4 linked regions of the Homo sapiens genome follow. The protein of the gene in region 4 interacts with the protein of the main gene of each other region in a pairwise test. Each region holds a gene or a part of one and is shown on either strand. Other genes may lie near its edges.

Region 1 (7,025 bases), on a different chromosome or scaffold from region 4:
CATCATTGTAACTGGCCAGGAGCTCTGCCAAGAACAAGAACATAGCAGTGAAGGCAAAGGCTGAAAAAAGCAGGGACCAGGAGGTGGGGGTTGGGGTGGGGCTTCTTGCCAGTAGTGCCCCCTCCAAATACCCAGGTGTAGCACCCATCTTATTTGGAACACCAGGCAAGTCCGACTGTACAGGGTAGACTAAGAACACACTGCCAACCCAGGGGCAGCAGAATGCTCAAAAAGGTCATACCCATTAACTCAGGAATGAGTCAAAGGCATAAGAACCTGCTCAGGCAAGCAACCTGGGCTTCAGGACAGGCCCTGCCAAATATCATCTGCAGCATTCTGCAAATGGTACCTGGCATCTCCAAGGGTCATCTACTGTATCCTCCCGCTATGTGCTCACCATCAGCAGTTACTCCCCAGCTGCTCTACTTGGAGCTATAGCACAGTGGTGAGCACTGGAGGGCACATGCCTCACTGGCTCAGCAGCTCCCTAGACAGAGGGGGCATGCCAGCCTAGGAGCTGGGCCCTGCTCACGTACCTGTGCCGTCGTGGCTGTACACAAGACAGGTGATGTTTGCTTTGGACTCACTGTTCACCTGCAATAAGGAGCAGATACTGACTGATGCCCCACCCCCCCATTTGTTATACCATCTTCAGGAAACAGCTTTTCCTTCAAACTCCCCTATATCTTCTCCCAGAGATTTGAGAAAGACAGACAGAGACAAGAGTACAACTGATGAAACATGACCACCTCAGGGGGTAGCATCTTGGGGCTTTCTTTTGGTTGTCATCCATGTGCTAGCCATTTTATGTACACTGTCTCATTAGGCCTCACCATCAAGGTGCAAGGCAGTTATTTTTATTTCTATTTTGTCGATTAAAAAACTGAGGCTATCAGAAGTGAAGTGACTGCCAAGATCACAAAGCTGGTAAGTGGTAAAGCCAGGATTCAAATCCAGATGACTGACTTGAAAGTCCAAGCTCTTCCCACCATACCAACAAGTTCAGGTGCAGCCTTGGGGTTGAGTCAGGGAAGCCTGCAGCAACTGGCCCTTCATGAATCTTACCAGGTGATGAGGACAGAACTTCTTGAGTACTCCATTGTTCTCATTCTCATCAATTTTCCTCTGGTCATAAATCCTACAGTTGGAAAAGCAATGAAAATGTAAAAATGTACAAACGAAACCCTTGAAGAGCTGCAATTTGATGTAGTGGCAGGAAACTGCCAGCTGGATGCAGATAAACAACATTTTCCAAACCAAGCTTTTGGTTTGTGCTCTTCCTTAAAGGGCATCCCTTTTCCAATCCATTTCCAAACCCTAAATCTTTTGTTTGTTTGAGATGGGGTCCTGCTCTGTCACCCAGGCTGTAGTGCAGTGGCATGACCCCGGCTCACTGCAACCTCCGCCTCATGGGTTCAAGCAATTCTCTTGCCTCAGCCTCCTAAATAGCTGGGACTATGGGCACACACCACCACGCCCGGCCAATTTTTGTATTTTTAGTAGAGACAGAGTTTCATCTGTTGGCCAGGCAAACCCTTAAATCCTTTATCCACATACTTCCCATTTTAAGTGGCAATCCTCAATTCTGTCAGTTTGAAGTGGTTTATCTCTCTCCTCAAGTTTTATATCACATACTGCTACTTTTCACTGAAACAACTAACATTAGTATGGAGCTTTTTACATGTACATTACCTACCGAAAAAGGTTACTCACGGGCAGAAACCATGCTTAATGTAAGTCAATGGGTCTGTAATCCCTCCTTAAAACTGTATTTGGCCTGTTCTCCCTCTCATACCCCACAATAATTATTAAAAACTACCACCCATATCCTCAAGACTCCCTCTCCTTTCCTCATTCTTATCAAGCACACTACACCTTCACCTTCCTTCCTCTCTCTAATCCAAGCTTTAAACTCATGAGGACACACATATTATGTGTCAAATATTATGCTAGGTGCTAGAAATACAGTGAGGAACAAGACAGATCCAGTATCTGTTCTCACCCAGTCTCCTCCAATCTCAGAGCCAATCTCTTGAAAAATGCTTTTCATTTCATCCTTCCAGGGACCTTGTTTGATGATTATCTAATTTCTCAACCTCTTCCTCATCACCAGCTGGCCACTTTCTAAAAATCCTTCTGCTGACTGTCCTTTCCTACTATTGCTTTTTTTCTCCTTCCCCTTACAGTTACACTACTGAAAAGAACAATCAACATTCAATATTTCCACTTTCTTACTTCCTATTCACTTCTCAGTCCATCCTAATCTGGTTTTGGTTCTCAACTCACCACTGAGACTTCTCTGGCTGAAGTCATCAGTTAATTATATCCATTTGTTAAGTAGGTGTAAGTCTAGAGTTCAGAATAAGTGTGGTCTGCAGACACAGATGTAAGTCATATATCCGTGTGAAAGGTGGTAGTTAAAGCATTGGTAATGGAATTAGATCTCCAAGGGAAAATACAGAGAAGATTTTCCCTTCGCCCTTTAGAATCTCTGGCCTGTTTCAGAATATAATGAAAACTCTAGTCCCTTCTCCCCAGAAAAATGCACATAAGCATACTTTCTGGAGGTTCACATAATATTTGTACTTCAAGTTAAAATTCCCTGGTATAGAGTAAGATGAGAGCTGAAGACTGAGCTACTGGAGAACATCAGCATTTAATGGGTGGAGAAAGGAAGACACACCCATGAACAACACTGAGGAGTGGTTGGACATCAAGGAGAGAAGGTGCTTCAGGGAAGGAGTAATAATGTCAAGAGTAGAGAAAAAGACTTGAAAAGTACTTTGTTTGCTTTGGCAGTTAGGTTACTGATGACTTAAGCCTTGACATCCCCAGCTCACACGATCCTCCCGCCTCAACCTGCCGCGTAGCTGGGACTACAGGCACACACCACCATGCTGAGCTAATATTTTTATTTTTTGGTGGAGACAGCATCTGCCCAGCTTGGTCTCAAACTCCTGGCCTCAAAAGATTCTCCTGCCTCAGCCTCCCAAAGTGCTGGGATTACAGGTATAAGCCACTACACCCCAACTAAGTGTTTATTAATAGCTTACTATATTCTACATATGATGCTAGAACGGAGTTTGGCAAACTTTTTCTTAAAGGACAAGACAGTAAATGTTTTAAGCTGGTAAACTGGCAAACCATCTAATCTCTATTAAAACTATTGAATTCTGCCATTGTAGCATGAAAGTGGTCATAAACAACATGTAAAGTAAGGCCATGGCTGTGTTCCAATAAAACTTTATTTATAAAAACAAGCACTACAGTTTGTCAAGCCCTGTGATAGACAGTAAGCATAGAAAGATTAATACAAACTTTCCTACCACTTTCTGAACATATGATAGGCCCTTGATAGTTTATATTTTACTTTTAGTTATTTTTTTTGAGACAGGGTCTCACTCTGTCATCCAGGATGGAGTGCAGTGGTGTAATCACAGCTCACTGTAGCCTCAAACTCCTGGGCTCAAGAGATCCTCCTCTGCCTCCCAAGTAGTTGGGACTACAGGAGCATACCACCACACCTGGAGATATTTAATTAATTAAAAAATTAAAATTTTTTCTTAATTTTTTTTTTTTTTGGTAGAGACACAGTCTTGCTATATTGCCCAAGTTGGCCTTGAACTTCTGACCTCAAGCTATCCTCCAGCTTTGGCCTTCCAAAGTGCTCTAGTTTTATAGTCATGAGCCACCACACCAAGCCCCTTGACATTTTAAGTCACGTAAGGAATAGTGTGCACACCTTTACCACATCTCTTCCCACATGCCTTCAGGCACCCACTAACTTGTTACCCTAAGTCTCTCTTCTATACCTGCCTTTAATCTAATGTTCTCTCAGTGTTGCTGATGTTGGCTTAAGAACTGGGGAATGAAGAGATGATTTACTGACTGTGCTTCATCAATCAGGGCCTATACTTAATCCTTTAGCAATAAATTTTCATGTCAGCCAAATTTACCACTAAAGGATTCACCTGATATATTCTCTTTTTCTTTACCCCTATAAATTCTTAAAACTAAGCTAAGCAGGAATTAGCTTAGCTTAGCAGGTGTAGTAGGGACTCACACCTATACCTCCTCTACTTACCTTTTTTTTTTTTTTGGCCACAGGCCAAAAAGCATGTCTCCCCAGAGCTTCCCTTAAATACTTTTTAATAACCCTAAACTAAAATTCAGTATTAATGATGCAAAAGCCTTGAGGATCAGTAAGCTATTTCTCTATATTCCCTTGAAGTAATTCCTTTAGGCTAGGAGTGAAAGTTAATGATGTTATGATATATAATATTCAGCAAAAATGTTTTCAAATTTATACCAGAAGATGAGCTGTTTGGGTTCTTTCAAAGGAAGAATAAGAAAGGAGAAACCTCAAAACATTCAGTTGGCTGCACAGGAGAGGTGCCAGAGAAGTTGAGTGTAACCTAATGTCAGAGAAGAGCTGGAGTGCTGAAAGGGCTACCTGCTTGTGTAGGATCAGCGTGCCTCAAAATCTTCACATAGCCAGGCGCGGTGGCTCACGACTGTAATCCCAGCACTTTGAGAGGCCGAGGTGGGTGGATCACTTGAAGACAGTTCGAGACCAGCCTGGCCAACATGGCAAAACCGTATCTCTACTAAAAATACAAAAATAGCCAGGCAAAGTGGCACATGCCTGTAATCCCAGCTACTTGGGAGGCTGAGGCATGAGAATCACTTGAACCCAGGAGGCAGAGGTTGCAGTGAGCCGAGATCGAGCCACTACACTCCAGCCTGGGCAACAAAGTGAGACTCTGTCTCAAAAAAAAAACAAAAATCTTCACATAACTTCTGCCCAGTAAATAGCCAATAGAGGAATATTGAGGCTGATAAGACACAGAAGATTTGAGTATTTCTCCTTGTGTTGAAATGCTAAAACTCTAAGCCTTACTCTAACCCTGGGAAAGTATCAGCTTTGGGTTAAGGCAATATGATATACATATCATATGAATACATATGAATACATACATACATATGAATACAGTTCTCAATACAGCAAACTACTACATTCCCCTCCAAACATCTTGGTCCTAGTGGTGGAATTTGTTAGAGACACAGACTTTTCAAGTAATCTGGAGCTCTAAGTAGGAACTCTCAACTCAAAATTTCAGTGAATGCTCAACTTGGAGGAGGTAGCAACTGAAAATCTATACAAACTACAACCCTTTTTGATCAACAGCTTCTTATTTAAAAATAAAAAAAATTGGCCAGGCACAGTGGCTCATGCCTGCAATCCCAGCACTTTGGGAGGCCAAGGCGGGCAGATCACCTGAGGTCAGGAGTTCGAGACTAGCCTGGCTAACACGGTGAGACCTCGGTTCTACTGAAAATACAAAAAATTAGCCAGGCGTGGTGGCGTGCACCTGTAATCCCAGCTACTCGGGAGGCTGAGGCAGGAGAATCGCTTGAACCCGGGAAGCGGAGGTTGCAGTGAGCCAAGATTGTGTCACTGCACTCCAGCATGGGTAATAAGAGTAAAACTCTGTCTAAAAAAAAAAATCTATGGCTACACATTTAAGGACTGTTGGTGACTAGAGGAAACGAATTTTGAAGGCATGGGAATAGGGGAAGAAGAGAGAAACAAGGTTTTGTCCAGGATTCTTGAACAAGGCAAAGTCATCTCATGTATTTTCTAAAAATTTACCCTATTCCCCATGATTCTTATTAATAAAATGAATCTGGAAATATAGCTATAAAATGTGCTCTCATTTCAAAAGGAAGATGATGCTTTTCACTTACCATTAGGAAAGCAAAAAGTCACTCATTTTTCTAGTGATCTTGCCCCTCTCTCTCCTTTCAAACTGATGAGCCCAAAGAAACATAGTTAAAATAGGCCAACTGGATAGGGATGGATACAGCTTATTACTAAGGGTCAGAGGAAATTAACTAATACATATGGAGACTGAATCCACAGTGTCTGTTTTCCTTAGGTCATGTCTCAAGAGCCAGTGTTAACAAAAGGTGTTCACGGTAACAAAGATATCACTATGGATAAAAAAAAGTGGTAGCTCAGGACAGTGAGAGCCAAAAAACCCTCAGTTCACACTAAGTGCTCCCAAGTCAAACTATTTCTGAATTGAAAACCAGTATTTAAAATTTCTAGTGCACGTTTATTTACATACGAAAAAGGTAGATTATTTACTAATATAGTACTTGCTGGTAAACCTAAATTTATGGCTTAGCTGCCACGTGAGGACCTTGGTCAATTCATCTAACTTCTTTTCTTTTCTTTTTTGAGACAGAGTCTCGCTCTGTCATTCAGGCTGGAGTGCAGTGGCACAATCTTGGCTCATTGCAACCTCTGACTCCTGAGCTCAAGTGATCCTCCTGCCTCAGCCTCTTGAGCAGCTGGGACTACACGCATGTACCACCATGCCTGGCTAATTTTTGTATTTTTTTTTTTAGAGACAGAGTTTTGCCATGTTGGCCAGGCTGGTCCCAAACTCCTGTCCTTAGGTGATCCACCCGCCTCACCTCCCAAAGTGTCGAGATTACAGGTGTGAGCCACTACACCTGACCATCATCTAACTTCTTTAAAACTTGATAATCTCTAAAATATGTAAAGTCACCCCTCAGAGACTGTTACATTAGAGAACAGAACATCTCCAAAGGCGTGTAAGATTTTTGGAAAACGGTAAAAAATTCAAGATAATAGTTAATGGATTCCTATAAAATTCGTAACTCTCCATAAAGGAGCACCTGGTAGTATACAATGCATCAGTCTTACAAACTGTCAAAGACACAAAAGAGCCACAAACTCACCTTACAAACTGATCTCGTCCACCCACTGCAAACTGGTGGGTATTGGCAGGATTCACATAGATCGTATACAGCCCCACTTTCTTCTCTTTCTCTTTTGTCACCACCAGTTTCCTTTAAGAGTAGAAAAGCACAGAAAGTTATATACTCCAAAAGATCCAAATGGTCATGGCAAAGGAGAGCCAAGAGAGTCACATGGCTAATAAGAAACCAAAGAGATTCTCATTTGGAAAGAAAGAATTGTTGTGTTTTCTCTG
Region 2 (7,625 bases), on a different chromosome or scaffold from region 4:
TTCAGGTTATTTATTTTCCTGATCATAATTTTCAAATCAAATTAAGATCAAACTCCACTGACCGTCAGGTACTGTATATTCTCATTTTGATAAATTTCAAATTAATGATAAAAATGTATTAACCTGCTGGTCAATTATACATTTTATAAATATATTTTAACCAATGACATATTATCAGTAAGTACAGATTCAACGGCAAGATTTCATTAAGAAAGTGTTTCAAGCTTCAGATGCCCAAGACTTATTTAATGTGTAAATCTTCACCACTACAATAACCACATGGTTAAACGATCACCACTTCCATTAGCAAGCTCAAGCCTAATAAGTGATCTCCTGGGACTTCAGCACAGAGGTTTTCTAATTTTATTCCTCCACTCAATGTGGCTATTCTCCCTTATCTATTCACGCTGGCAAAGCTTCTAGTTAAACTGGAATTAGTAACTATTTGATGATAATAATTAACATATACTGAGTGCTTCCGATGGCGCAGTTAATTCTTACAGTTGATAAAAGTGTGGCACAAAAAGGTTAATCAAGTAGCAGAGGCAGGATTTGAACCCAGGAATTCTGGTTCCAGGGCCCGGATTCGGAGTTACAAAGGTGAGTAAACTGAAAAGAGTCCTACTTTTATTGTCATTGCTTTCTAATAAAAATTATTTTTTTCTTCCAATTGTTTAAATCTCTTCTCATTCTCTATTTAAATATTAGGCGTTCATTTAAATATTAGGCGTCTACCTTACAGTAGGACATCTTTAAACAACGTAAAAAAGGAAAGCTTTGTCTTCACCTTCACACATACCGGTCTGCCCATAAATTTTGCAATCCAGTTCTGCCTGATTCTAAACTGCTTGTCTCTTGAAGCGAATGCCTTAAAAAGTGACACTGGGATCAGGATAGTTATCTCCATCCATCCTCCCTCAGAAAAACAACTATATTCGAGTAATTCTTGGGACCACTGAGAACAATACACAGACCTTTGGGTAACTTCAAGACAAAAAAGGCAAAAAGTCGGGGAGAAGGTGTGGGAGGATGATTTTCCCCTTCTAAACGTAAGGTATAAAAGGGCTCAGAAAGCGGAAAAAGAACCCTAAAAAGCAAGGTGCGGGACGGCGTGAGGGACCACACATTGGGCGCTCCGCCCAAGGGGTCCGGCTCCTTCTCCGCGGCGATGGCGCGTCCTTGGGCTCAGCAACCCTCCTGAAGACACCTAACCTCCTCCTTCTCCAGCCTGCCCCTCTGGGGCCTGCGAGCCCCGTCCCGGGCCGGGGGTCGGAAGCCGTGCCATGTAGGACCCCGAAAAGGCCCCCAAGCTTGGCGCGGAAGGCGCCGCCAGTGACCGGCTGCGGCTGGGGGCGGAGGCCGGCAGTTGCTCGGAGCTCCGGCGGGTCAGGAGGTGACGGGAGGAGGAGGAGGCAGGAGGAAGAAAGGGGGGTTGGGAGGTAGCGTCCGGTAGGTCTGCGCAGACAGCGCTGCCAGACCTCTGACTCCCCCAGTCCTGCCGCCGCCGATAGCCCCACAAGGCGACATGGGAAGTCCGCCGGAGCAGAGGGGAGAAAATTCAAAACGAGTCTACTCAACCTCGTCTTGGCTCCGAGGCCCCGCCATGCAGACCCCTCTAGTTTTTTACTATTAAAAATAGTGCTGCAACAAACATTTTATACATCTATCTCTGTATATATGTGTAAGTATACTGAAAATGAGTTCCCAGAATTAGAATGGACAAGTCAAAGGGCATACAGATCTTAATTTTGTTAAATTCCATCAAACTGTTTTCTATTATAGCCCCAAGAAGTTCCCCTTGACTGTTTCCTTACATCCTCATATTGTTTTATGAGTCCTAATAATTAAATATCCCTTTGTTGTGTGTTGCCCTTATATTTCCCATTGTATGTTTGATGTTGTTTTTCTCTTACTATATAAAAGTTTTAGATTGTTAGGTAGTGACATTTATCAATCTTTTTGCTTATGAGAGTTTCCAAATTTCCTGACATGCTTCGAAACACCTTCTCACAATGAAACATAAATACATAAATTCATCCATAAATGCATAAATGAGACAGATCTGTAAATATTGATAGAAAACAACTGGACACACAGTCTTAAGTGTAAAAGCCAATCACAGAAGAGTATGCACAATGTTACAGGTGTAACTACATATTTGCGTATGTCTAAAACACCTGTGGAAGGTGGCCTGGAGATGGGGAGAAATGGGTAGATGGAGGATTTTCACTCTTCATTCTTTTTACTATTCGAACTATTTTTTTATGTATTATCTATTCAAATGAAAATGTTTAAATCTTATTGTTTAAAAAGCAACCTCTATCATGTTTGCATACAAAAAAGTCTCCCTTTTCACCTACATTTCATTCCCTACCATTTAAAGCTTAACACATTTAGAATGTAGTATAATTAGTGAGGCAGGGATCCAGTATTGCCTTCTACCAAATAGATCTGTTGAATTTTTAGGTTTGTTAAGAGGCAAAGACCAAGGGTGGAGAGGAAGGAGTGAGAGTGCCAGGTGAGGAAAGTCTAAAATCTCTCGACTTAATATGAGAATGGTGGCCACGGAAGGCTAAGAGTCTCTAGTGCCAGGTGTGGGTTATACACACATCTTCTATGCAATTACCGTGACAAGCACCCAGGGTGTGAGGTGAGGTGTACCTCCTAGCTTGATGCTGCTGGTTCAAGTCCCAAATCAGAGAGGGGAAGCCAAAAAAGGAGCCGAGAAAGATGAGATGCTTCGCACGGTTTTTAAAGTAAAGTCGGAACATTCCTGACCGACTAGGCAGCCCCAGGCGCTCAGGTGGGAATCACTGCCCAGCACACAGAACCCAGAGTCCAGCGCGGCTGTCACCGGCTCTAGGCTGGATCTAAGCGTCGGACCAGGAGGCCGCAGTCAAAATCTGTTCTCCTACCTGTGTACGAAACCAAACTATTCTCGTCGAAGTGCTTTCCCAGGCTCCTAAGACGCAGCTTCCATACTCGCCGCGTTCTCAGCTGTTGGTCGTATCCTAGCAACGGCCCTGGCACCACCTCTTCCTGCCGGAGCACGGCAGGGGTGGGAAGGAGAGGAGCCAGAGGCGGGTGGGGGGGAGGAGCCAGAAGAGGGCAGCGGGGAGGGGCCGGGAAGGAGGAGCGCGGCAGGGTAGGGGGAGGAGCCAAAGACTGGGGGCGGGGCCGGGAAGGAGGAGGGCGGCAGAAGAGAAGGGGATGAGCCAGAGGCGGGGAGGTGGGGCCGGGAAGGAGGAGTGCGGCAGGAGAGAAGAGGAGTAGCCAGAGGCGGAGGGGCGGTGTCGGGAAGGAGGAGCGCGGCAGGAAATAAGGGAAGGAGCTAGAGGCGGGCTGGGGGCCGGGGTCTGGAAGGAGGATCGCGGTAGGGAAGAAGAGGAGCCAGAGGAGGGGGATGGGGGCTGCAAAGGAGGAACGCGATAGGGAAAAGGGGGAGGAGCCAGAGGCGAGGGGGCGGGGAGAAGAAACATGGCAGGAGAAAGGGGAGGAGCCAGAGGCGAAGAGACAGGAAGAGGGACGCGTCAGGGAGAAGGGGAGGAGTCAGAGGCGAGCGGGCGTGGAGGAGGGAAGCGGCAGGGAGAAGGGGCGGGGCCAGAGGCGAAGGGGCGGGGAGGAGGGACGCGGCAGGGAGAAGGGGAGGAGCCAGAGGCGGAGGCTGTTACCAACTGGCTACCTAGATCCAAGTGAATCAGGACACTAACTTCTCTCCAAGATCTTTTACACTTGTGAAACGGCACAGCTCTCTAAACCAAACACTGACAGCAGTTTAATTTTACAGATATAAAAAAAATCCGAGTCAGAGAAATCATCACGATGAAGTCAGAGGCGAGAAACTGTCAGGTGCCTACTTGCTTTTGTTAAACTAACAACTTGGCTCTCAGCTTCCTGGCAGCCAAAGAGAAAAGGGAGATAGTAGCTATCAAATAATTCTGCTTAGAAGAACTTTTGTTAATCACTAAATTAGTTAATAAACTAAATTTTGTCTAACAACAAATTCTTTTTTTTTTTTTTTTTTCTAGTGTATACAGAGTCTTGCTCTGTCGCCCAGGTTGAAGTGCAGTGGTTCGATCTCGGCTCAATGCAACCTCTACCTCCCTGGCTCCCGCGATTCTCCTGCCTCAGCCTCCTGAGTAGCTGAGATTACAGGCGCCCGCCACCACCCCCGGCTAATTTTGGTATTTTTAGTAGAGATGGGGTTTCACCATGTTGGCCAGGCTGATCTGGAACTCCTAGCCTCAAGCAATCCGCCTTCAAAAGTGTTGGGGATTACAGGAGTGAGCCACCGCGCCCGGCCTATCAATGAATAAGAAAACTTTTAAAGAACCACAGGATAGTATTGGAGGTCAAGTCAAGTATGTTCCTCTTGGAAATTTAGTAACAAACTACATGTTGCTATCTCATAATAGCAGCTAACATTTATGAAGTATTCATTGTCATGAGGCACCGTACATAGATTTCTAATTTAATCCTTACAACGATTTTATTAGGGAGAAACTGCTATTAGACCCATTTTGTAAATGAGAAAACTAAGGCACACAAAGTTTAATGAGGGAACCAGGATTAAACCTAAGCAATCTAACTCCAGGTCCCAGATTTTTTAACCATTACAGTACTGTTTAATTTGATTTGATATGTTAAAAGGATTAATAAAATTAATACAGGTCCATTCCCTTATTCATAAATGTTCATTGTCTTCATTTATTTCTTTATACTGTTCTGCTGAAATTGCACTCTCATCTCCCCAATAACTTTGTAATATCCAATGCCATTTTTTTCAGTCATCCCATTTTAAAATATATTTTTACTAGAATAGTGAAATATATATTCAGATAAAATTGGCTTTGTTTTAATAATGATCAGTAAAAGTAAATTCATTTTAATCATTTCCACACATTCATGAAAAGTAAAGGGGAAAAATGGGCATAGAGGTAACCACTAGAATTAGGCTTTCTTGGATGGGTAGACCAGGTGTGGAGGTGTGCAGATAAGATTTTACAAACACTCATACACTCCCATCTCCAAAATCATAATTTATCTTACATTCTGCTACTAATAAACATTCCACTGGTTTTAAACATTCACTTTGCTGGGTCTCCTCTTTAAAATTTGTCATTCACTGTTCTCAATGTTAGAGACGGTATGCAAACAGTAGGTTTAGGAATAGAGTCAGGAGATGGGGGAAGAAAAACTGGTAGGAGAGAACTTAAGTGTCTCACAGTGTTAAATGTGACTTGATAGCCACTATTCATTTTTTTTTGTAGTTTGCTGTGAGGATGACTTTATACAATTTAATCTTAAATAGGAACCTAACTTAGTTAGGCTTCCTTGGGTAGTCTGTGGAGCATGGAAAAGTTATTAGCATGTCAAAATCCTGTCCACGCACACATACACGCACATACACACAAATGTAGTTTGGTTACATAATAAATTTATATTCAAACTTAATGAAAACAACCAATAGGAAAAAGCTTCTCAATTCCAAAAGTGAAAGAGTAATTTTACAATACCATTTTCCATTTTCCTTTTCATGATAAATCTATGCATTTTCTCAGGATTTATTCCACCAAACGACTTCGTATTTCTCATGAAACATCTACCTTTATTCATCTCAGCATTTATTTATGTAATAAACATTTCTTTTGATGTGCTTTTATTTTTACAAAGATGCCACCTAGTGGCTTGATAAAATCAAGCATTTCAAAGTATCTCCTGTTGTTACTACAGGTTAAAATGAATAATGAATATTTTTAATATTAAAATAATTTAGAAAACTAAGGACCTGAAAATTTTTGTTTTGGAAATTATTTAGATTAAATTTGGATCATAATACCACTTTGTGAACTTGTTAAGAGAATGGAAATATAGGTCTATTGTCCCTTTTCTGAAACCTTTTAAGACAGATGTGTTTGATATTCACAATTTTTCAGATTTTTGAAAGGAAATATGGGCATATACTTTACATTATGTAACACATTAAGAGGGTCTGAGGAAGCAGTTTAGAATCAAATATATTGATACATCTGTGGCAAAATATATTCATATTCACATTGAAGTGCGATAAATACCACAAATAGCCTCATGTAATTCAGGTGGGGTTTGTTGCCAAATGAGTTATGAAAAAACTTTGTTTTCAGAGATTTTTGAAATTAGGAATTTAGATAAGGGACTTTGGACCTGTTTTACTCTGGTGAAAAATAATTCACCCTCCAGTTATAGAGAGATTAAAATGCCAATATTTTGTAAAAAAAAAAAAATAGTTATCTTTAGAAAACCTAATAGATTCACCTAAAAAAAAATTGAAGATCATGAGAAATACCAAAATAGAAATCTTTGCAATGCTTTTCATTTAATTATATACAGATGCCAATCATAAATTACATTTAAGTGTACCACAAAAAATTAGCTGCTAATGTAAACCTAAAGACCAATTTGAAAATTATTAGTGATGCATGGCAAGTTCAATTCATAAATTTTGTGGCACAGTCAAAAAAAAATTTAACCTTGGTTGTTTCTTTTTTTTTATTCCTATGTGTAATTTACCATGTTCCAATTCCCCACCACCACTATGGTCATGGAAATATATGTTGATGGTGCCACACTCAGCCTGGATTCCTTGTGGGTCTATGAGCACTCCTTGCCAACCCTCCTTAGACATGCAGTATGAATAAAAAATACACTTAAGACACTGGGATTTAAGGATAACCCATGCTAAGTCACTACATGACTCACTATTTTACTTCACGATCTAGAATACTGACTCATCTCTAGTCTCTCAAATGAATTCTTCCTGTCCCCATCAATCATTCAAACCCCTTATCACATTCCCACTGTGATTTCCTGTGAATTTTGTCTAAAATAAAACGTCGACCTCCTCTAAACACAACTGGTAGCCTCTCATTTACTTTTCTCTAAAACAATTGGCATTACTATTGTTGTAGCATAGGCTACAATCTCACTGAACACTTAGTTTTTGTTTTTGTTTTTAGTAGAGACGGGGTTTCACCATATTGGCCAGGCTGGCCTCGAACTTTTGACCTCAAGTGATCCACCCACCTCGGCCTCCCAAAGTAGTGGGATTATAGGTGTGAGCCACCACGCCTCCCTACTGAACACTTAGTTTTAATGGGAAGACTGCACTCAGCAAATCCAAAATACTAGTGATATGTTCAGCAATTTGGTACTTAATCCCATACCCCACAATACACTTGTGTAGGGTGTTAGACTTCTGTATGTTTACATAATCATAGAGGATGGGAGGAAAAAGAAAAAGCTGCTATTAGCCTACATGTGGGAATTTTCCTATATATTGTCATCTCCCTTTTAAAAAAGATACATTCATAAACATTGTTATTGGCTTAATTAGCTTCGCTCCTCTGAATGTGATTAGAAAATTGACAATAAAATATAAGCTCTCTTTTCTTCCATCCCCCAATTCTGAGGGAAAAGGAGGGGGAGGGGAGAATGAGGGAGAGTGAAAGGATACAATAAAACTTGAGGCCTGATTGCACATGATGACTACTACTGCTGGCATCAATTCATTCTATTCCAATGACAGACTAGTTGATCCTACTGGTGTGGGAAAGATGGCAACCTTGAGACCTGAGCCTTACTCCAGT
Region 3 (6,106 bases), on a different chromosome or scaffold from region 4:
CAAGTCCCCACTCTCATCTACCCCCACCCTCCCCAGAGGAGCCCCTTTGTGACCCGGGCTGGGGTGGGGTCCAGCCAAGAGAGGAGTCACTGTAGGGTGTGAGGCCCACCCAAGTCCCTCTGCACGGACCCTCCAGGCTGGCAGGGGAGCCTCGGAGCCCCGCAGATGTAGTTTCTCATGCTTTCTCATGGGAAGCCCTCCCTGGATCCCTGTCCCTTTCCTGCTTTCCCTGCTGGCTGATATCCACCCCTTTCCAAACTGCTCTCTCGCAAGTCTTTCTGTCTGGACCTTCATTCTCTAGAGCCACAGAGGAGGCCAGAGTGGCTGCCCCCAATCCACAGGCTCTGAGGTGGCTGCCACATTCTTCCTTGGGCTCCCTGGCTAGTATCCTACCTTCTCTTGCTGCCCAAAGACTCAGATCCAGGTATCTGATACCTATATTATAGGACTGTGAGGTTCAGGCTGGGAAGAAAGGGGTATCATCCCACCTGCCCAGCCAGGAAGGAGAAAAGGGGGCCTGATGAAGAAGGGTGGTCATTGTATATTTGAAGGACACTGAGTTGTGGGGAGGGGCTCTCAGGCCCAAGGATGGAGGCAGAAAGCCAGGCCAAGCAGGGTCAAGGGCATGCCACAGGCTCTCAGGAGCGGGCCCAGCCCCATGAGCAGCAGCAGCAGTGCGTCCTGGAGGCTAAGTTGTCCTGAGACTGTACCCATTTGCAGGAGTAGAGCCTCCTGCTGTCCAGGACCTTCACCGGCCCCCTGACTCTGGCCCCTGGTGAGAAGTTTGCGCTGTGGCAGAGTGTGACCTGCGGGCCTGTGGAGAGAGAGGGTGGTGACTGGGCTTAGGGAAGTTGTCCACTGGCCCGCCCGCCTACAATGCCCACCTGCCAGGCTGCTGCCCACTTACCTATGGAGCAGGTCAAAGGTGAGGAAGCTGACCAGAAGCAGCAGCAGGGCTGGGCCAGTGGTGGAAAAGACTGCCTGGATTGTCAGTCCTAGTGCCCCCAGCCATAGGACACTGTCCAGGAGCTGGGCCCAGCTAGGGCCCCAGGTGGATACAGGTGGACGCACTGGACTACCTGACCCCTCCCCAGCACCCAGGCCCCTTGGAGGAACTGGGATCGGATCCTCACGTGCTTCGGGTCTGGGTAAGCAGAGCCGGGTCATGGAGAGAGGTGGAGGTGACGGGAAGACCTAGTGCTGAAAAGGATTATAAGGGTGAGAGTAGGGGAAGGGGTAGGGCCCGGGCAGACAGAAGGGTGAGCTCAGAGTGGGGAATTAGGCTCCTGCAGAGTCTCCCCCTCCCCCATACCCACCCAGCAAACCCTCCTCACCTCCTCCCACTTTGGTCAGCATTCTGGGAGTGGGCACCCGGGGCATTGTGACCTGTTACCACGTGGGGCCGTGGGGTAGGGAGGGGGCTGCTGCTGCTGCTGCTCTGACCTCATAAGCAGCTGGTGGCCTAGGTGGGGCTTAGCTGGGAAGTCAGGGATTTCTGAGAACTAAGACTCATCCTCTTGCCTTTGCTGATTCTCTGCCCTAGGGCCCTCCCTTGGGGATCTGAGTTGTCAGGAAGGCATTCTAACCCCATTACTACTTGGGCATCTGTCCAAGGGAGCGAGGTCTGCTTTCTTCTTCCTGTGAGTTTGCAGAGCTGCAGGTCCAGGGCGAAGTCATTCAATATCTCTGTCCCCAGCTGTCTTCCCTGTGGGTCCTTCTAGGGGATTTTTCAGGCCTGAAGTTCCAGATTGCAGAGATGGGCTCTGCCAGGGGACTGCCTGAGGCTTCTGGGGCTGGGCTTCCGCATAACCTGCTAAATGGGGGTGAGAGAGGAGGGGGCTGTTCAGGTATTCTAAGCACTACAGTTTATAGGGGGTGTTATGCATACTGGGGTTCCAGTAATGAGGTAGAGGACATGAACTTAAGAGGACTATGACCTAGTAACCCCCTTATTAGAGGTTAAGGTTACAGTCTGAGAATGGAGTTAAGGAAAATGAACATATAATGAAGGGCTTAGTCACTTGGATTATCAGTATATCAGATTACACTGATCATCTGTAAATGGGTGGTGGCCATAGGGGTCCAGCACATCTCAGTTTAGTGACTTGAGAGGCAAGAGCGGAAATGTGTCATAATTAAGAGAACTTAATCTTTGCCCACATATCATACTTTGAAGGAAAACTGGTAGGGGTGGCAAAATGGGAGACAGTGGCCATACAGCCCCTAGGAGAGGAGGAGACAGAACAAGAATCAGGCTGCATATCCACCTCCAGCAGGCCTTGCCCAGAGACGAGGGTCACCAGCCCTAATGACCATGCACTGATCGCCCTTGGTCTGGCTGTTCTTGCTTATCCAGCAGCTGGGTTTTACGAGTAGATTTGTCCGTAATGGGATAGGGTATAACAGAAGATCCCAGAATTTTTTTTTTTTTGGCATTAAGTTCCAATTGTGCTTGTAAAGGAACATTAAGGTTTAAGATTGGCAATTCCCTGAGCCTGATCAATCCTGGATGCATCCACACAATTGCATTCCTGGACATACAGACCTGGGGAGCATGTCCTGATGAGTCCACCAAGATGAGGCTACTCCATATTGCAGGGCATGGGGGGATCGGAGAGTCTAAAGCTCCTTAAAGATTTACTATGCACCAGGTGCTCTGTATGCATGTATAGGAGAGTTCTGTCTGTGATTTTCTCAGAGTTTATTTTGTATTCAACAATCATTTATTTAAGTGCTTCCTATGTGCCAGGCACTGCACCAGATGGTGGGTGTATTAGGCCATTCTTGCGTTGCTATGAAGAAATACCTGAGACTGGGTAATTTATAAGAAAAGAGGCTTAATTGGCTTGCAGTTTTGCAGGCTGTACAGGAAGTAGGGTACCAGCATCTGCTTTTGGGGAGACCTCAGGAAACTTCCAATCATGGCAGAAGGCAAAGGGTGAAGAGCAAGGGAGAGAGTGGTGGTTAGGGGAGTTGCCACACACTTAAACAACCAGATCTTGAGAGAACTCACTCACTATTTCAAGGACAGCACCAAGCCATGAAATATCCACCCCCATGACCCAAACACCTCCCATCAGGCCCTACCTCCAACATTGGGATTTGAGATTTCAACTTGAGATTTGGACAAATATTCAGACTATATCAATGGGTCATAATTTCTAAAAGTAGAGCCTGAGATGGGGATACTTGTACACATGGTTTATTGAGGGAGTGCTCTGAGGAGGAAAACCTTTCTTTCTATTTTTTTTTTTTTTTTTTTTTGAGACAGAGTTTCGCTCTTGTTGCCCAGGCTGGAGTGCAATGGCGCCATCTTGGCTCACTGCAACCTCCGCCTCCCGGGTTTAAGTGATTCTCCTGCTTCAGCCTCCCAAGTAACTGAGATTACAGGCACCCACCACCACACCCAGCTAATTTTTGTATTTTTAGTAGAGACAGGGTTTCACCATGTCGGCCAGGCTGGTCTCAAACTCCTGACCTCAGGTGATGTGACCGCCTCAGCCTCCCAAAGTGCTGGGATTACAGGTGTGAGCCACCCTGCCCGACCAGAAGGGAAAGATTTTTAAAAATCAAGAGACTCTTCAGAATTGAAGGACATGATTCTCTAGACCATAACTTTCCACCAATTCACAGCCCAATACATGAAACAGGGCAGCTAACATCAAGGCATATAATGAAATTCACATTAGCAGGGATAAAAAGACAATCCTAAGAGCTTCCACCAAATAAAAACATCACATACATCGGATCTGAAGCAAGAATGGTATCACACTTCTAAACACCAATACTGGTAGCTAGAAGACAATAAATGCCCTCAAAATGATGTCTAATATAGAAATGTATAGGTCTGAATGATTATTAATTGGGAGGGTAGAATAATGACATTTCAATCATACAAGGTCTCAGAAATTTGACCTTGCATATACCCTTTCTTAGAAAGCTACTGGAGGATGTGCTTCAGCAAAACAAAGAATTAAACTAAGAAAGAGAGCAATATGGCATTCAATAAATGAGATTAAGCACAGAAAAGGGACGATGAGAAAGGCCTGGGATGTCAACTATACCCCCGGGTAAAGAAAGTAACCAACCCAGCCTGAAATCAGAAGATGTGCTCTAGGAGCGATGTCTCCAGAGGAAAATGAAATCAACTGATTATTAGCTATGTTTGGCTATATTGAGTAAATGTTCAGTTACACTGGAAGCTTTGCGATTGAATTAATGAGTGATGCCTAGAAAACTAAGCAAATGATAAAAACAAAGTAATTACTAACTCCAGGTAGCACAAATTTAAACATAATATTTACATAGTCATAACAAAAGCACTGAATATTGATTCCAAATAGCAATTGAGCTTTACTGAAAATGGAAGGAGGGAGTGTATGTTTGTGTATCTGGATGTGTGTATTGAGGGGAGGGTGGTAGAAAAACTAACGCCTTAATTTCATAGCAGAAATCCACAGATAACAACTACATAAAGAAAAATCAAGAAATGCACAGTGACTCACACCTGTAATCCCAGAACTTTGGGAGGCTGAGGTGGGCAGATCACTTGAGGCCAGGAGTTCAAGACCAGCCTGGCCAACATGGTAAAACCCCATCTCTACTAAAAATACAAAAATTAACTGAGCATGGTGGCAGGCACCTGTAATCCCAGCTACTTGAGTGGCTGAGGCACGAGGATCACTTGAGCCTGGGAGGCAGAGGTTGCAGTGAGCCTCAGCTCACTGCACTCCAGCCTGGACAGCAGAGCAAGAAATTGTCTTTTAAAAAAAAGAAGAAGAAGGAGAAAAGAAAAGAAAAAAGAAAAAAAAGGAAATAGCAAGAAATCTAAGCATAGAGATAAAGACAGGAGAAATAACAAAAAGAACTAAAAGTGCTTGGCTTGGGAAAGGCATAGAGCCGACTCTTCCATTACAAGCCTAAATGTGATTTACCTTTAAAACTATATTGTAGACTGGACCTCTATGGAAAACTGTATGAAGATTTATCAGATAACTAAACAGAGATCTACATTCAATTCAGCAACCTCACTACTGGATATCTACCCAAAGGAAAATAAGTTATTATATCAAAAAGACACCTGCATACATAGTTTATTGCAGCACAGTTCACAATTGCAAAGATATGGAACCAATCTAAGTGCCCATCAACTGATGAGTGAATAGAGGGAATGTGCTATGTGTGTGCATGCACACACACACACACACACACACACACACACACACACACACCATGGAATACTACTCAGCCATAAAAAAGAGTGAAATAATGTCTTTTGGATGGAACTGGAGGTCATTATTCTAAGTGAAGTAACTAAGGAATGGAAAGCCAAATACCATATGTTCTCACTTATAAATGGAAGCTGGCGGGACACGGTGGCTCACTCCTGTAATCCCAACACTTTGGGAGGCTGAGGCGGGTGGATCACGAGGTCAGGAGATCGAGACCATCCTGACTAACACGGTGAAACCCGTCTCTACTAAAAACACAAAAAATTAGCTGGGCGTGGTGGCGGCACCTGTAGTCCCAGCTACTCGGGAGGCTGAGGCAGGAGAATGGCATGAACCCAGGAGTCGGAGCTTGCAGTGAGCCGAGTTCACGCCACTGCATTCCAGCCTGGGCAACAGAGCGAGACTCTGTCTCAAAAAAAATAAATTAAATAAAAATAAATAAATGGAAACTAAGCTGTGGGTATGCAAAGGCATACAGAATGGTATAATGGACATTGGAGACTCAGAAGGAGGAGGGTAAGCGGGGGGTGACAGATAAAAAAAACTGCATGTTGCATACAATGTACACTACTCGGGTGATGGGCGCTCTAAGATTTCAAACTTCACCACTATACAGTTCTCCCCTGTAACCAAAAACCGCTGGTACCCCTAAAGCAATTGAAATAAAAATAGAAACTATGTTGTAGCCTGGATGACATAGCGAAAACTTGTCTCTTAAAAAAAAAAAAATGTGGCCGGGTGCAGTGGCTCACACCTGTAATCCCAGCACTTTGGGAGGCCCAAGGCGGGCAGATCACAAGGTCAGGAGATTGAGACCGTCCTGGCTAACAAGGTGAAACTCCATCTCTACTAAAAATACAAAAAATTAGCCGGGT
Region 4 (7,407 bases):
CTTCCCTAAAAAGTCACAACATAATCGCCGCTCCTTCTCCCTCAAATGTAAGCTCCGTGAGGGCAAAGATCTGTGTCTGCTTTGCTCAGTGTGGTTTTTCCAAAGCCTAGGACACCTGGCTGTCTGCTTTGCTCAGTGTGGTTTTCCCAGAGCCTGGCACACCTGGCTCATAGCAAACATTCCATCAGTATTTGTTGAATGAAAGAAATGATTCCTCAGGACTCTGGAGATGTCTGAGGAGCGTGGGCAGAGTGGGGTGCTCAGCCTCACCCCCAGATATTCTGAGGAGTTTCAGAGACAACGAAAGCCCTGGCTCCTCTCGTCCCCATGCCCTGCGTGAGCCCGGCCTGCACAGTCCTCCTGGAGCAGGCTCAGCCAGGAGCACCTCTGGAGGACAGGTCTGCAGAGCCTCCTGGCCAGAGCCTGGGGGTGATAGCAGCCCCTGGGCTCCAAACAGCCCAGCTGGAAGCGCCAGGCTGCCTGCCTGTCTCAGCCACCCACATCTGCTGCCCGGGCCTCCCTGTGCCTGCACGCGCGCGCACACACACACACAGGCCCACAGCCTGGAACCAAGGGAGCACCGTCTGCTCCCGCCCGGCCCTCAGCGCCCCAGGGTCAGGGAAGCTCTCCAACCTGCTCCATGAAAACAACAACGGCACAGAAAAGGCCGCCTGAGACCGGGGCTGGGCACGGCTTTGACAGGCAGGAGCATTATATAATTAACTGCCCCAGACTCCTCCTCCTCTTCGGGTAATAACGAACCCTGCTTTTCAGTTGCATAAGCCAAAATAATAATTACTCTCCAGCCCCCTGCCACTCCTGGATGTGGCCGTGGAGCAGGTGTTCCGAGCTTTCTTCATGAGACTCGGAGGCAGCGAGCGGGCGGGGAGGACTAGAGCACACGTACGCTCAGGATTTTTATTCTCGGCAGAAGCACAAGTCATTGCTGCGTCTCACTCCCTTCCCAGGCATCCATGCCTGAAACAGGCGAGCCGCCCGAGGGAGGCAGAGGACCCAGTGCCTCTGAGGATAAGCTCCCACATGGGAGTGGACTGGTCGGGGAAGCCAGTTTGTTTGGGGTCTGGCTTCCAGGAAAGGACCGGCTCCATGCGTGTCAGGTGCACTGAGGAGTGGATATCGGAGAGTCCAGGCAGGCGGGCAGCTGCAGAGCCGGCCAAGGTTCCCTGCACAGAAACCATCTTACAGCAGCAGCAGCAGCAGCAGCAGCAGCAGCAGCAGCAGCAGGCAGCTCCCTGGCTTCCGGCCCCGGCTCTGCCCCGAATGCGGTGGCATCTTAGAATGAAGGCACAGATCGATTCCCTCAACTAATGGTGAAAACGATGCAGCCACTGAAAGACGAGATTCCTGGGCTCTCACTGAGCAGATGGGCCTCCCTCCTCCCTCCAGCAGCCTGCTTCGACAGCGCTAGTCCGCGTCCAACCACCTAGAAGTGTACTGCCTGGCTGTTTTGGTTCGGGTTGGCATCCCCCGCCCCTAGCGCTCCCCATCACTCCCTTTCTCTCGGCTTGGGCAGATTCGGGGCTGAGGAAGGCCCTCGGGCGCCGCAGGAACACCAGAAGCGAAGCTGGGGCCTGATCGAAGGGCGGCCTCCAGGGTGGGGGGCAAAGCCAACAAGGGGAGGGGCCCTTCTCCCAGCCCCCTCTGCCCTTGCTGGGTTCCCCAGGGCCGCGGGCCCAGCCTGGCCCTTCCCGCAGGTCTCCGGCCTGCTGTGTCCGACGCACGGAGGCTCTGCTGGGCCCCGCCTGGCTCTGCCCCTGGAAAGCCCCCAACACCCTTCAGCTGGCACAGGGGCACTGTCCCCACCAGGCAGCGGGGCAACCTGTAGCCAGGAGCCGCCGTGGCTTCCAGGGAAGCCCGGGAAAGGCCCCTGGTGCCCACGGCCCAACCGGAGGACGCAGCTCAACTTCCCCAGAGATCCACAGAAGGGGCGCGATCGGAAGCACGTCCCTCCCGCCCCGGCCCGGCCCGGCCCGCGGCACCTACCTCCGTCCGAGTAGGTCTCGGTCCCGTAGCCGTCCTGCAGCCCGTTGCTCCAGGTCCCTTCGTATTTGGCCCCGTTGCCCGCGCACTCCCGCACCCCGTAGCGCCCCTTGAATCCGTGCGTCCACTCGCCCTTGTACACCCACTTCCCCTTGCTCTCCAGGCCGATGCCGTGGCGCTTGCCCTGCGCCCAGGTGCCCTGGTACGTGTTGCCGCTGGGCCAGGTGTAGACGCCCAGCACCTCGAAGCCGTGGCTCCACGAGCCGGTGTATTCGCCTTGGCCCTTGGGGCCGGTGCAGACGCCATGGCCGTGCGCCTTGCCGTCCTCCCAGCCTCCACAGTAGGACCCTCCGTCGTCAAAATTAAACCTGCCCCCACTGGACATGCATGTAACTCGGTTCCAGATCCCGCAAACGGTGAAAACGGACTCAGGCGATCGACACAGCAGAGTCGCGGCCGCCGGCGGCCCTGGGTCGCGAGCGTTTTCCGGAGGAGAGGAGGACGCGGCCCCGGAGCGCGGTCTCGGGCGCGGGCGGCCGCGGCGCCGGCTCCGGAGGAATTTCAGTCAATCGGGGGCGATTATTCCTTTTCGAGCTGCGCCGCGGAGCCTGACCAGCGTCTCGCGCTCCCGCTGGAGACAGGACCGGAGGGGAGGGGGAGGGGAGGAGGGAGGGAGGGGGCAGGAGCGGCGGCGGCGGGGCCCGCGGCTCCACCTCAGCGGCGAGAGGGCCCCTCGCCGGCAGCCCCGCGGGGAGGGCGCCGCGCCGAGGCCGGGCGGGGGGCAGCTCAGGCCCGGGCCGCGGCCCCCCACCTGCGGCTGCCGCGCTGCGGGCGCCCGAGGGCGGCGGCGGGGCCCGCGGGCGGCGGCGGCGGCACGGGCGGCGGCGCTGGCGGCTGCACCATATTGGGGGCCGCGGGCCGGGCGCGGGGCGGCGGCGGCAGCAGCAGCAGCAATGCGGCGGCTCGGGCGGCGGCGGCGGCGGTGGCGGCGGCGGCGTGCGCTCCGGGCCCGGCTCGCGCGCTCGGGCCGCGCGGCGCGCGCCCGCACCCCGCCCGCCCGCGCGCCCCCGCCCGCCCCCCGCCCCCCGCCCCCCGCCCCCGCCCCCGCCCCCGCCCCCGGAGCGCGGCGGTCCCAAGAGGGGCGCGGCCCAGCAGGCTAGGGCGCGGCGCGCGGGCGGGGACCCCGGGCGCCCCGCCCTCCGCGCCCCCAGCCCCGCGCTCCCCGCCCTGGGCTTCCCCGGGGCCCCCGCCGGACTGGAAACCGGGGTCCAGCCGGGGCGCCCCCGCCCCCTCCGGGAGTGGGATTTAAAGGCACAGGAACTGCGTCATGGGAAGGCGCGCAGCACTCAGGGCGCCCTCGGCCCCCTCCCGGGAGCTGGGCGGTGAGGCCTGCAGAGCAGGACCTGCCAGCTGAGCGCCCCTACCCTCGCCCCTGCCCGCCCCCGCGCCTCGCCCCTCCCGCCGGGCTCGGATCTGCCCCGCCTGCCCCTGACTCGACTGAGGCCCTTTGCAAACCACAGGTGGTTTTCTCCGGTGACAAACAATGCTTCCTTCTTCCTTCCGGGCAGCTTGGGTCCAAGAGTGGGGGGAGGGGGGCTTACCCCAGAAAACAGGGATTTGGCGAGTCCCTCTCCCCTATAAATTGAGTGAGAGTCGGGACACACGCGTGTATCTTGGAGCAAAGTCACCCGAATTCCGTGCGCCCTGCGCCCTGGCCAACAGGTAGCGCCCCCCCACTCGGGGAACGGTCGCGCTTTTGGGGAGCAAAGTGGGACCGCCATTCGGGCGTTTCTAGGTCTCTCTCCAGACATACTCTCACCCTCCGCCCCTCTTCCCACGCACAAGAGAGAGTCTGATTCTTGGATCCGAGCATCCTGGGATCCATTTAAAATGCATTTCCTGGACCATAAATCCTCAGGCAGAAGCCGGCGTCCCCAGCCCTCCTGAAATGCGTGCGGGAAATGGCAGCAGACCGGTGCAGTGGGCTGATGGGGGTGTGGAGGCTGCCCAGGGTCCTCGCTCCTGGGAGTGTGGGCCGGTGACCGCAGCGCGGTGAGCCAGAAACTGCAAGCCAGGCCTGGAGCCTGAGATTAGGACAGGAGAAGAGGTGCGATTCGGAGCCTCCAATCAGCCAGGAGCCCTGCTCAGATCTTCCCCTGTCCGAGAGAATCAGGATGGTCCCCACTCTTGGCTCACGGGGCTCTCAGAAAAATCAGCCCCTCCTGGGAGTCCCAGAGTTCAACCTCAGTCTCTTGCCTTGGGCACCAAAGCTCCCTCCCCAGAGTACCAGCAGCCAGGAGGACAGTCACCTCCTCATACACCCACTGTCAATGAGGAACATTTAGGGCGGTCGGCTTTGTTTTGTTTTGTGCAGTTACAGTGATTCATTGAGCTTTCTAGCGCTGTCTCCCTGTGCCCCTCTACAGAAGTTCTCTAAATGTCTGCGGTGGCATCATTGGACCAGCTACGTCTTGGACTTTATTGGAAGCTGCCAAATTGCTTTCCAAACACCTGGAGCAACTGACCTCTCACCCTTCAGTGTGCCTGGGTTTGTGGTTCTCTATTTCCTGGCCAGCACTGGTGTCCTCAAACTTCTGATTTTCTTTCCATTTATTTTACTTTGTTCATCTAAATGGGTATGAAATAATATCTCTGGGCTGTTTCATGTCCATGGAAATTTCTCTGTTGTAAATGTGTGGGCCAAAGGAACTGCACCTTGTCCTCAAGAGATTCGGGTCGAAACCTTGGCTCCGGGGCCCACCAGCAGTATGGCTTTGGGCAGTCACCTAATGTCCCTGAGCTCAGTTTTCTCATCTGTAAAATGGAGATGGCAGAGTTCCCATAGGGTTACCGTGGGAATTCAAAAGCTAGGCGCCCAGCACTCAGTAAGCGCTCGGGAAGTGGGAAGTAATGTTATTGGAAGCCAGCCCCCCAGGGAGGGTCATGGATTCCTGCATGGAGACACCCAGCCCTCTGCCTGTTGAAATAAACATTGCCACCACTCGTATGTTCTACTTTTCATTTCTTCCATTTTATTTCCAACCATTTTGCTGCTGAATCAGCAGCCCTCCTTCACACAAGCAGTGGATTGCAACTGAGATCCTATTGAAACACGGTGGTTGCTTCCAAGCAGTTACTGGTCAGCACCTTCCACCTTTGGCCAGTGTACACTCCGCTCCCTTGCAGTTCCAAGACCCCCACCTCCAACTGACCCTCTCTCATCTCCTGCAGTCAGTTACTCCAGCGGTGACAGGCTCTAGTCTCTGAAATGCAGATATTACAGGCATTTGTTCTGTGCAATTTGGAAATCACCGCCCTCCCGATAAAGTAGGGCTGGCAGTATTGATTTCACTTTGGAGGAAACTCTCCAAGCCTATAAACGTAGTACCACCCAGCCGTTTAAAAACAAAAACCAGGGAGAAGGGTAAAAAAGCTGTAACCCACATGTGAGCCAGGCACTAGGATGAAGACAGCACATTAGTCATCTCATGGACTCAGGTGATTTGGAATTACACTCTCCTTTTTAAAAGAATCACTTTTCCCCACCAACGTAAAGTGCCTTGCCAGAGGGAAAATAATGACTGGGCAGGATTCGAGCCCAAGTCTGCCTGGCCTTCCAGCCTGCACCCTTTCTGGCCTCCAGGCATGGGTCCTTGCTGTCTCTTTTGCCTGGTGCCTCTTCCCATGACAGTAGAGCTTTCTGGTCTCAGCTCCAGAGAGGCTTCCTGACTAGTGCAGAAAGAAAGCTCCCCCTGCATCCCCACAAAAGCCTATTAATCTCCTTCAAAGAACTGAGCCACGATCAACTTATCTGTGCTTGCCTTCTTGTCTTTGCCTGTGTTTACCATAACACTGTGAAATGTCCACAAGATCCCCCATTCCACGTGATCTTCTTCCAGTGTGGTGTTGACACCCCTCCTGTTGAGGGAGTGCTTTGGGGGAGCAAAGTGGGACTGCCATTTGGGCGTTTCTAGGTCTCTGTTGAGAGGTGGGCTCTGCATTCCCTTCCCCTGAATCTGGGCCAGTGTGTGATTATCACAGAAGTGACAGGATGTGACTTCAAAGGTCAGTTCATAAACAGCAACACAGCTTCTGCCTCATGCTCTTGGGGTGCTCAAGCTTGGAACCAAGTTGCCATGATGTAAGGAAGCTCAAGCAGCCCCTGGACGTGCCAACAAGGAGAGATACAGGGTCCTCCAACCCACAGCTCCAGCCAGACTCCCAGCCAGCAGCCAGCAGCATTTGACAGCCATAAAAGTGTACCATCTTGAAAGTAGACCCTCCAGACCCCAGGCAGGTCACCCCAGCTAAAGCCACATGCAGCTGAGACAAGCGTTCCCCATCACATCTTGTCAGAATTTCAATTTTCTGAAAAAAAAAAAAAAAAAAAAGAAGATTGTTGTTTTAAGCCAGGCATCACACAAACCATAACCCAGAGGCCAAATCTAGTCCACTGCCTATTTTCATAAACAGAATTTCACTGAAGCACAACCATGGCCATTCATTTGTGTGTCTAGAGTGGCTTTTACACTGCAACATAAGAGTGGAGTCGTTGTGACAGACACCATATAGCCTACAAAGCCTAAAATATTTACCATCTTGTTCTTTACAGAAAACGTTTACCACTTTTTGCTCACGGGGCTCTCAGGAAAATCAGCCCCTCCTGGGAGTCCCAGAGTTCAACCTCAATCTCTTGGCTTGAGCACCAAAGCCGCCTCCCCAGAGTACCAGCAGCCAGGAGGACAGTCACCTCCTCATACACCCACTGTCAATGAGGGACATTTAGGGCGGTTGGCTTTGTTTTGTTTTCTGCAGTTACAGTGATGCAGTGAGCTTTCTAGCACTGTCTGCCTGTGTATTAGTCTTCAAGGGCCGTCATAACAAAATACCGCAGACTGGGTGACTTCAACAACAGAAATGTCTTATTGTTTTTGAGGCTAAAAGTCCAAGATCAAGTTTCTGGCTGATTCAGTCCCTGGTGAGAGTTCTCTGCCCAGCTTGCAGATGGCCACCTTCCCACTGTGCCACGACCCAAGCCTCTCTCTTTTACTGGGCCCTACATCTCTGCTCTCAGCCAGCCTGCCTTATGTTTCTGCCCTCCATAGACCAGCTTTCTCTGCTGCAATCTGCTCTTCCCATCCTAACAGTCACTAACCTGGACTCTGGAGATCCTGATTCCTGAGTCTTAGGAGAGACATTCAGCCTGGGTCAGGTGTCTCTTTCTGACTCGATTAGCTGTGGTCAAGTAGTGGGGTCCAGGGTCCTCCCTTGTGATGGCAGAAAGATATGATCAGCATTTCTAGTACAAGTAGAGGAAGCAAACTGAGCCAAAAATTGGGATATGGGGTCTGTCGATAAGACATGATTTAACATTGAGAATGGAAGAGCTTTGAAAAAATGTTGAGC

What was found.
Region 1: the proteins of JPH3 (region 4) and DCAF8 interact in binary tests that used the Homo sapiens proteins (3 or more experiments, as listed by UniProt).
Region 2: the proteins of JPH3 (region 4) and IQUB interact in binary tests that used the Homo sapiens proteins (3 or more experiments, as listed by UniProt).
Region 3: the proteins of JPH3 (region 4) and C20orf141 interact in binary tests that used the Homo sapiens proteins (3 or more experiments, as listed by UniProt).

Annotation. Positions count from the first base shown.
Region 1 is NC_000001.11:160,224,526-160,231,550, forward strand, and holds part of DCAF8 (DDB1- and CUL4-associated factor 8), read right to left. Parts: intron 6,883-7,025; coding exon 6,772-6,882; intron 1,139-6,771; coding exon 1,066-1,138; intron 595-1,065; coding exon 537-594; intron 25-536; coding exon 1-24. UniProt on the Homo sapiens protein: May function as a substrate receptor for CUL4-DDB1 E3 ubiquitin-protein ligase complex.
Region 2 is NC_000007.14:123,531,577-123,539,201, forward strand, and holds the start of IQUB (IQ motif and ubiquitin-like domain-containing protein), read right to left. Parts: upstream 3,020-7,625; 5' UTR 2,916-3,019; intron 1,618-2,915; exon of another isoform or gene 788-1,617; intron 1-787. UniProt on the Homo sapiens protein: Adapter protein that anchors the radial spoke 1 (RS1) complex to the A microtubule of outer doublet microtubules in axonemes. The triple radial spokes (RS1, RS2 and RS3) are required to modulate beating of the sperm flagellum.
Region 3 is NC_000020.11:2,810,246-2,816,351, reverse strand, and holds C20orf141 (uncharacterized protein C20orf141), read right to left. Parts: upstream 1,366-6,106; 5' UTR 1,335-1,365; exon of another isoform or gene 1,201-1,334; 5' UTR 1,168-1,200; coding exon 908-1,167; intron 815-907; coding exon 577-814; 3' UTR 522-576; downstream 1-521. Other genes in the region: TMEM239 (transmembrane protein 239), read right to left, coding at 1-17.
Region 4 is NC_000016.10:87,598,126-87,605,532, reverse strand, and holds the start of JPH3 (junctophilin-3), read right to left. Parts: upstream 3,026-7,407; 5' UTR 2,387-3,025; coding exon 2,005-2,386; intron 1,445-2,004; coding exon of another isoform or gene 1,374-1,444; exon of another isoform or gene 1,294-1,373; coding exon of another isoform or gene 1,115-1,293; exon of another isoform or gene 905-1,114; intron 1-904. UniProt on the Homo sapiens protein: Junctophilins contribute to the formation of junctional membrane complexes (JMCs) which link the plasma membrane with the endoplasmic or sarcoplasmic reticulum in excitable cells.